Linked DNA regions of Homo sapiens. The protein of the gene in region 1 purifies or fractionates together with the protein of each later gene. This does not show direct contact. Each region holds a gene or a part of one and is shown on either strand. Other genes may lie near its edges.

Evidence for each region.
Region 2: the proteins of SEC16B (region 1) and SLC25A31 purify together in Homo sapiens (affinity purification with mass spectrometry; one large-scale study listed by BioGRID and IntAct). This does not show direct contact.

The regions. Positions count from the first base shown.
Region 1 is NC_000001.11:177,956,275-177,960,318, forward strand, and holds part of SEC16B (protein transport protein Sec16B), read right to left. Parts: intron 2,702-4,044; coding exon 2,566-2,701; intron 2,089-2,565; coding exon 1,858-2,088; intron 1-1,857. Other genes in the region: CRYZL2P-SEC16B (protein transport protein Sec16B), read right to left, coding at 1,858-2,088, 2,566-2,701. UniProt on the Homo sapiens protein: Plays a role in the organization of the endoplasmic reticulum exit sites (ERES), also known as transitional endoplasmic reticulum (tER). Required for secretory cargo traffic from the endoplasmic reticulum to the Golgi apparatus.
Region 2 is NC_000004.12:127,733,400-127,736,899, reverse strand, and holds part of SLC25A31 (ADP/ATP translocase 4), read right to left. Parts: intron 1-3,500. UniProt on the Homo sapiens protein: ADP:ATP antiporter that mediates import of ADP into the mitochondrial matrix for ATP synthesis, and export of ATP out to fuel the cell.

The DNA.
Region 1 (4,044 bases):
GTAATAGAGACCCCATGGCTTGCAAAATGTAAAATGTTTACATTTTACATTTTTTACATCTGTCCAATTATAGAAAAAGTTCGGCAACTCTAATATAGAGTGTTTTCTGAGGTATTTTGTAAAATCAAAAAGGGAAGGTACAGAAATGGTATACAGCATGCTATTTTTTAGAAAAGAGAAAATAACAATATATGCATAAAATTTCTCTGGATATTTCTGAGAGGAAAACTGGGTGACTAGGGGGTGGGAGCATCATTTCCCAAGTATATCTTTTTTATATTTTAATTTTTGAATTAAATTGATTCAAATTGATTTTAATTATCTATCCAAATACTTAAATTTTTATGAATTTTGTAAAGCATAATCTCAACTTCAAAATTAAGCTAGAAATCAATCTTCATCTGTTTAAAGTACAGACAGTCCCTGCTTTATGAGTTTTTGACTTTACAATGCTGTGAAATCAATACACATTCGGTAGAAACTGTAATTCAAGTGCCCATACAACCATTCTGTTTTTCACTTTCAGTAGCATATTCAATAAATTATATGAGATATTTAGCACCTTATTATAAAACAGACTCTGGCTTAGATGATTTTGTGGGTTATGGTAAACATTCTGAGCACATTTGAGGTAGGCTAGGCTAAGTTATGATGTCGGGTTAGGTGTATCAAATGCATTTTTAACTTATGATATTTTCTATTTAATGATGGGTTTATTGGGATGTAAACATTGTAAGTCATGGAGCATCTATATTCAATATTGATAGGAAGCCTTAGATATAGCAGCAGGAGTATTTGTAAACAAACTTCCTGGAAATTAATTTGGTGTATATATAAAGAACCTTTTAAAAGTGCATGCCCTTTATATACCCAATAATTCCACTTCTAGGAATCTGCCCTAAAAAATTTAAAAGATCAGGCAAAGACTTATGTAACAAGATGTGTAAATGGTATAATTTATAGTGGTTGACAAAATTATAAATAGTCTAAATATTCAATAATAGTAGAATAGATAAATAAAATATGATACATTAATATGATGGAATATTGTATAACTATTTTTTAAATGGCGCTATTGGGGTATATATAATGCCATGAGGGTATTTTACCATATCATCTTAAGTTTAAAAAGAGAAATAAACAACTGTATATGCAATTTTATTTTCTTTTTAATATATATGCATGGGAAAATGCTGGAAGTAAATGTATCAAAATGTTAACAGGTATTATCTTTTTTATTTTTAATTTGTATGAGTACATAGTAGGTATATATATTTATGGAGTAAAAAATATGAGATATTTTGGTACAGGCATGCAATGTATAATAATCACATCCTGATAAATGGGGCATCCATCCCCTCAAGCCTTTATCCTTTGTGTTACAAACAACCCAATTATACTCTTTTAGTTATCTTTAAATGTACAATTAAGCTATTATGGACTATAGTTCCCCTTTTGTGCTATCAAATACTAAGTCTTATTCATTCTAACTTTTTTTTGCACCCATTAACCCACCCACCCTCCCTCCCACCCTCCCCTACTGCCCTTCCCAGCCTCTGATAACCATCCTTCTACTGTCTATCTCCATGAGTTCAATTGTTTTGATTTTTAGATCCCACAAATAAGTGAGAACATGTGATGTTTGTTTTTCTGTACCTGGCTTATTTCATTTAATAGTTCATTGTCTTTTAGTGGTAGAACTATGGGTGTTTTCATTTTCTTTGTTCTGTCTTTCCGAACTTCTTGCATCCTCCCTGAAATGAGTATATACTATTCACATAATTTGAGCAGCGGTGAGTGGTGGAGAGGGATGGTGATTGCTTTTTCAAAATAAGTATGGGGGAAGGGCATACTTGCCTTCTTCCTTCCATAGTAGAGCAGCCTAGTGAATTTCTCCACGATCTGCGCAGGTGTCTCCACACTGGGGGGGATCTCTCCCGTGAGCAGGTTCGGGGTCCCAGAGCTCAGCACTGGCCAGTCCTCATCGGTCAGGTTGATGAGGTTGGCCACAGGGGGCTGCCGCTTGTACTTCTCCAGCTTCTTGCAGTCTTGCATTAGCAGCTCAGCGATGTCAGACCCCACCATGGACTGTAAGGCAAAGAGGATCATCTGGGGAGAATCCTATGAGTCCTCAGGCTGGCAGCCCCAGCTGGAGAAGGAAGGCACCAGGGAGCCTGCCTTCTTCACATGGAAGCCAATTATGCAAACATAAGGCAGTCCTTTGTTAGATTGCTATATTTCAGACTTCAGCATCACTATCATGGTTATTTTCTGCCTGTCAGGAGCCATAAAGCTTACCAGAAACATTCACAATTTCACAGGTATATTATCTGGCTGGTGCAATAACCCAGAAACTGTACAATTTTCCCAGACCAAGGAAGAAGATCATCAGGGAAGATCTGCGTTAGCAAACTCGCATTGACATTTGAGCAATTTTTTCCCTTGGGGCAATTTGTGGCTTCTTTAATATTGCTTTTCATAATCATGTCATAAACATAATCTTATCTATCCCATGAAGACTTAAATTTCAGCCTGCACCTGCTCTCCCACCAGAACAGAACTTACCCCATTCTGGCGACAAAGGAGAACCAAGAGCTGCCACAGTAGAGCTGAGTCTCTGCTCCCCAGTGTCTCAGATTTGCAGCTCTGAGCTGCTTTCTGCTGGCAAAACGTCATAATATCCACCTTATGTACATCTTCCCTACATGGAAAAAATTTAGGGAGCAAAGAGTGAGCAGGCAGACACTTCCCTGTTTCGGACCCCAGGCTCCTCCTAAGTGTGCAAGTGCTGGCTGGGCTGTGATTGAGATAGAAATCTGACAAGCCAGGGCTAAGGTAATGAGTCTATAGCTATAGGATAGTTATTTTCTTATAGAACAAGAAGAAATTTCAGAGATTCTCTCATGCACCCCCTTTATAGATGAAGAAACAGAGGCTCAGAGACCTGAAGTCACTGCACAGGAAAGCAAGTAAAAGCAGACTTTGGAGTCAGACAACCCTGGATCTAAATCTGGCTCTGCCACTTCTCTGTTTAGACAAGTTTCTTACCTCCTCTGAGCCTCAGCTTTGTCCCCTAAAATAGGGACAGTAAAAGGACCTACCTCCATACAAAAAGGAATTAGAAAATTGTGTGGCATATATTAAGTGATCAATATGATTGGCATTATGATTTGCTCAAGATTATCCAATAACATCAAAGCCAAGTTAGGCTTAGTACCCCAGTGTTTGAATACCCAACTCGCTTTTTTGCCCCATATCTGTATACCTGTTTGTAAGAAAGAGATAACACTCATTTTTACTTGAGGGAACCGTCAAATGCCATTTGAGGAATACATTTATATAGTAGTGATGATACTTTCCATGTGCATAATCTGACTTGAGACTCATAGACAAGCCTCGGGTAGGGAGAGCAGGTGTTATACCATTTCTCAAGGGGAAAACTAAGGTTCAGAGAGGGCTAACTGACCTGTCCACCATGGTATTCCTAGTCAGTAAGACGCCTGAGCCTGAGACCCACGTGGGCTGTCATCCAGCAAGGACTCTCTCCTCAACAAAGATGCCCTGAGTTACATTTATCAGAAATATAACTAGACATTTAAAAGCAGTCCTAGTTCAGTACTGCAGAGGGCTCACTTGCACACTGTTCTGTAACTTGAACACTGCCGATCTTATTTACCTCTCCAGGAAAAAGCCACTGTTACAAGAATTGTTTCTGCTATGATCCACTTGTCAGTGACTTCCCAGGCGATGCTCCACTTTTCTACTAACATCTATCAAGCACACGGAATGCTAAAACTTCCAACCATGCAGCCTCTGCATAATGGAACTGGTTTTAGATTTCTAAACTGTCATGCTAATTTTTCTTTCTGTCCTTCAACTATTGAATGGCTTGTCAAAATGACTCAGGCCACATCTGGTTCTATCTTGCAGCACAGAGAATTCCACTCCAACAAGGACAGATATTTTTTTCCAAGGAAACCAAGAACAAATCTCCAAAATGCTGATCTGGGCAGGAAGATTTTCTAGGTTTCAAAAGCCCTTACT
Region 2 (3,500 bases), on another chromosome or scaffold:
ACTCTATGCATAATGCAAGTTTATCCCAAATTATTTCATTTACAAATGAACATCTGGAGTACATGTTTATAAATTCAGGAACACACACATACACATTAGTAACAATTACTTGAGCACTAACTATGGTGTAGACACATGTTGAATATTTTACATGCATTATCTTCTTTAATCCTCACAACTACCGTATCAGATAGGTATAGTTATTATACCAGTATACCACTGAGGGAACTGGGGCTGAGAAAGGTTAAATAAAAACTGTTCAAAGTTACAAGATATAGGAAAGGCTGAGACTTGGTTCTAGGTCCATTCGACTCGAGGTCTAGAGTTACTGCACTTCTATTGCCTCTATATAAAAATCCATTCTGGATAAAACAGTATTTTTTGGTTAGAATAAAACAAGGTTAAAGCAGAAGTGATACAATGGCAGGAACGTTTTGACTCTCTAGTCATACAGAATAAATGGATGGTTTCTTAATATATATCACAAAATTGGTAGAGAAAAATATAGTGATGGTGACCTCTTTCTCCATTAAAAGTAAAATAAATAAATAAAAGTTTAAGTTTCTAATTCCTAAGAAAAAAATTTCTTCAAAATTTAAGAAGGATGAGAAAAACCTGCTCTGAACCTAATTTTGAACAAATAAATAAGAATTGAAATAAAAGTGACAGGAAAAAGTTACTGGGCCATTTATTGGCTGGCCTTGCCAAGAACAAGAATGTTAGGCATTCACGCCTGTAATCCCAGCACTTTGGGAGGCCGAGGCGGGCGGATCACGAGGTCAGGAGATCGAGACCATCCTGGCTAACAAGGTGAAACCCCGTCTCTACTAAAAATACAAAAAATTAGCCGGGCGTGGTAGCGGGCGCCTGTAGTCCCAGCTACTCGGGAGGCTGAGGCAGGAGAATGGCGTGAACCCGGGAGACGGAGCTTGCAGTGAGCCGAGATCGCGCCACTGCACTCCAGCCTGGGCGACAGAGCGAGACTCCGTCTCAAAAAAAAAAATAAATAAATAAATAAATAAATAAATAAAATAAAAGAATGTTAGGCATGTTTGGATATACAGTCTAAACCAACATTTTTTTTTTTTTTTTGCAGGGGAGGTTCAACATGTTTTGATGATATGCCTATCAATTAAAAAAAAAGTCTGCATGACTTCCAAATAGTATACATTAATAAATTATATACCTTTGCAACTATACTACCATATTATGTACATCTGTAAAACATACTCAAAATATAAATTAAAGAATGAGATAAAGATTTTTCATTTAAAAACTTTTATTTGGTACCTCCTCCACAGCAGACATTTTGTGCCTACTGGGGACAGCACTAGGAACAATGTTCCTGATCTTATGGAGCTTACATCTTAAGAGGGAGGGACCAGGGAGACAGGTAGCAAATAACTATGTCTGTTAGCAATAAAAAACTGTAAACAAAAAAACAATATATGAAGATTGGGAATAATAAAAGGCTATTTAGATAGGGTTGTTAGGGAAACTTGAATGTTAGATGATATTAGAGCAAAGTTAAACATTTATTTAAAAGATGAAAAACAATATTTTCAAACATCTTGCTAATTATGATGCTTTCACACCACCATTTACTATTATCTCAAGGCACTGTTAGGGTGAAGTTCATTTTTAAGAATAGTATATAGGAATCTATATTTCAAATAGTCTTCTTGTCTCAGGTCCAATTAGACTGTCATTGTTTCTACACTGAATGTCATGTGAATGATGAAATAATACGCCATTTCTTGGAGTAAATGGCATCAGCTTTTTCTTGTGGTTCATCATTTGATATTGGTGTTACCCTTGATTTGGTTTTCACGGCAGAATCTTTTTCAAAGTTTTGTCCATGTTTTGAGGATTTAGTTAAAACCTGATAATAGAATCTATAAATCCAGTTAATTGGGCAAACATAAACAATAATATATTATTGAGGAAGGGTGCTTGTCATTCCCTCTACCTTGTGTAACTCCCACTCTTTTTTTCAGGATCCCTTAATGTCCCGTGATATGTAACTGACATTGGGCCCAAGCATAGGGGACAATGCCAATTTATATATTAAATATCAGTAAAATTTATTTTTGTATTTTACTTAAAGTACATATAAATAAAATACCTAATATTTTCTTCCCATACCCCAAAATAGCATCTTCAAGATGGACCCTAGGATATTAAAAAACCTCACTGTTCTAAGTCTTCAGAAAAATGGGTTTGGGAAAAGCTTAGATGAAAGCTGATAAACTCGTGACACGGAACTCCTAAAAGAGAAGAGTTTGGATAGGCTTGTAAAAATGAGACTGTACGGATCTTTTTTTTTTTTTTTTTTTTTTTTTTGAGACAGTCTTCCTCTGTACCCAGGATGGAGTGTAGTGGCACGATCTTGGCTCACTGAAGCCTGTGCTTCCCAGGTTCAAGTGATTCTTGTGTTTCAGCTTCCCAGGTAGCTGGGACTATAGGCGTGCGCCACCATGCCCAGCTAATTTTTGTATTTTTAGTAGAGACGGGGTTTCACCATGTTGGCCAGGCTGGTCTTGAACTCCTGGCCTCAAGTGATCTGCCCACCTCTGCCTCCCAAAGTGCTGGCATTACAGGCATGAGCCACCACACCCAGAAAATCAGTTCTTTAAAAGGCTACATTTACAATATACTAATAAGACAGTTCCTTTGATTAAACACATATTTACATATGTATATTTTGCTCAGTGAAAAACCAAAATGTTAATTGTGGTGACTTTAGCAGTGATGTTACTTTTTGCTTCTTTATATTTTCTAATTTTCTACAATAATTATGCATTATTTGCATAATAAAGGTTTAAACAGTGTTAAATAAAAGTACACATACAAAGTTGGCAGGTGATAAAACCAACTAAAGAATATAATAAATCTTTAAGAACAACATAAGGATAAATCCAGAAGCTTTCATAAGCCAAGAAAAGCTTATAAAAAGTGTCAGAAACACTCAAAGTGATATTTAAAGCTATATTCAAGGCAAGAATGCAGAGATCTATTCTTGTAATGGAAAGAAAGTAGAGATAAGGTAAGAAACTAGAGAGCATCTAGTTGTGCATTCTGTGTTCATATCTCTTTCTCCAGCTCATTTCACATGGCCTAAAGAAAGGAAAAGTTGTGAATAAAATTAGAGAAAACATAAAAACAATCTTCAGGACACCTGAGATGTGCATGTGTCTTGACTTTCAAAAAAGAAAGAGAAGGCAAATTGCAAGAAATTTATGTTTTAAAATAAGGAAGTTGGTAGGTCATGACCATACCAAAAATATAATAGTCAAGCTTGCCTCTACTTATAACGATTCAGTTGTAATTAACTGCATATTGACATTTTGAAATACGTCAAATAAATATGTGTACAAGTATACATACAATCATCATAGATTCAATAGCTACAAATACAGATGACACAGGTTGAGCATCACTAATCCAAAAATCCAAAATTCTCCAAATCTGAAACTTTTTGAGCACTGACATCATGGGCA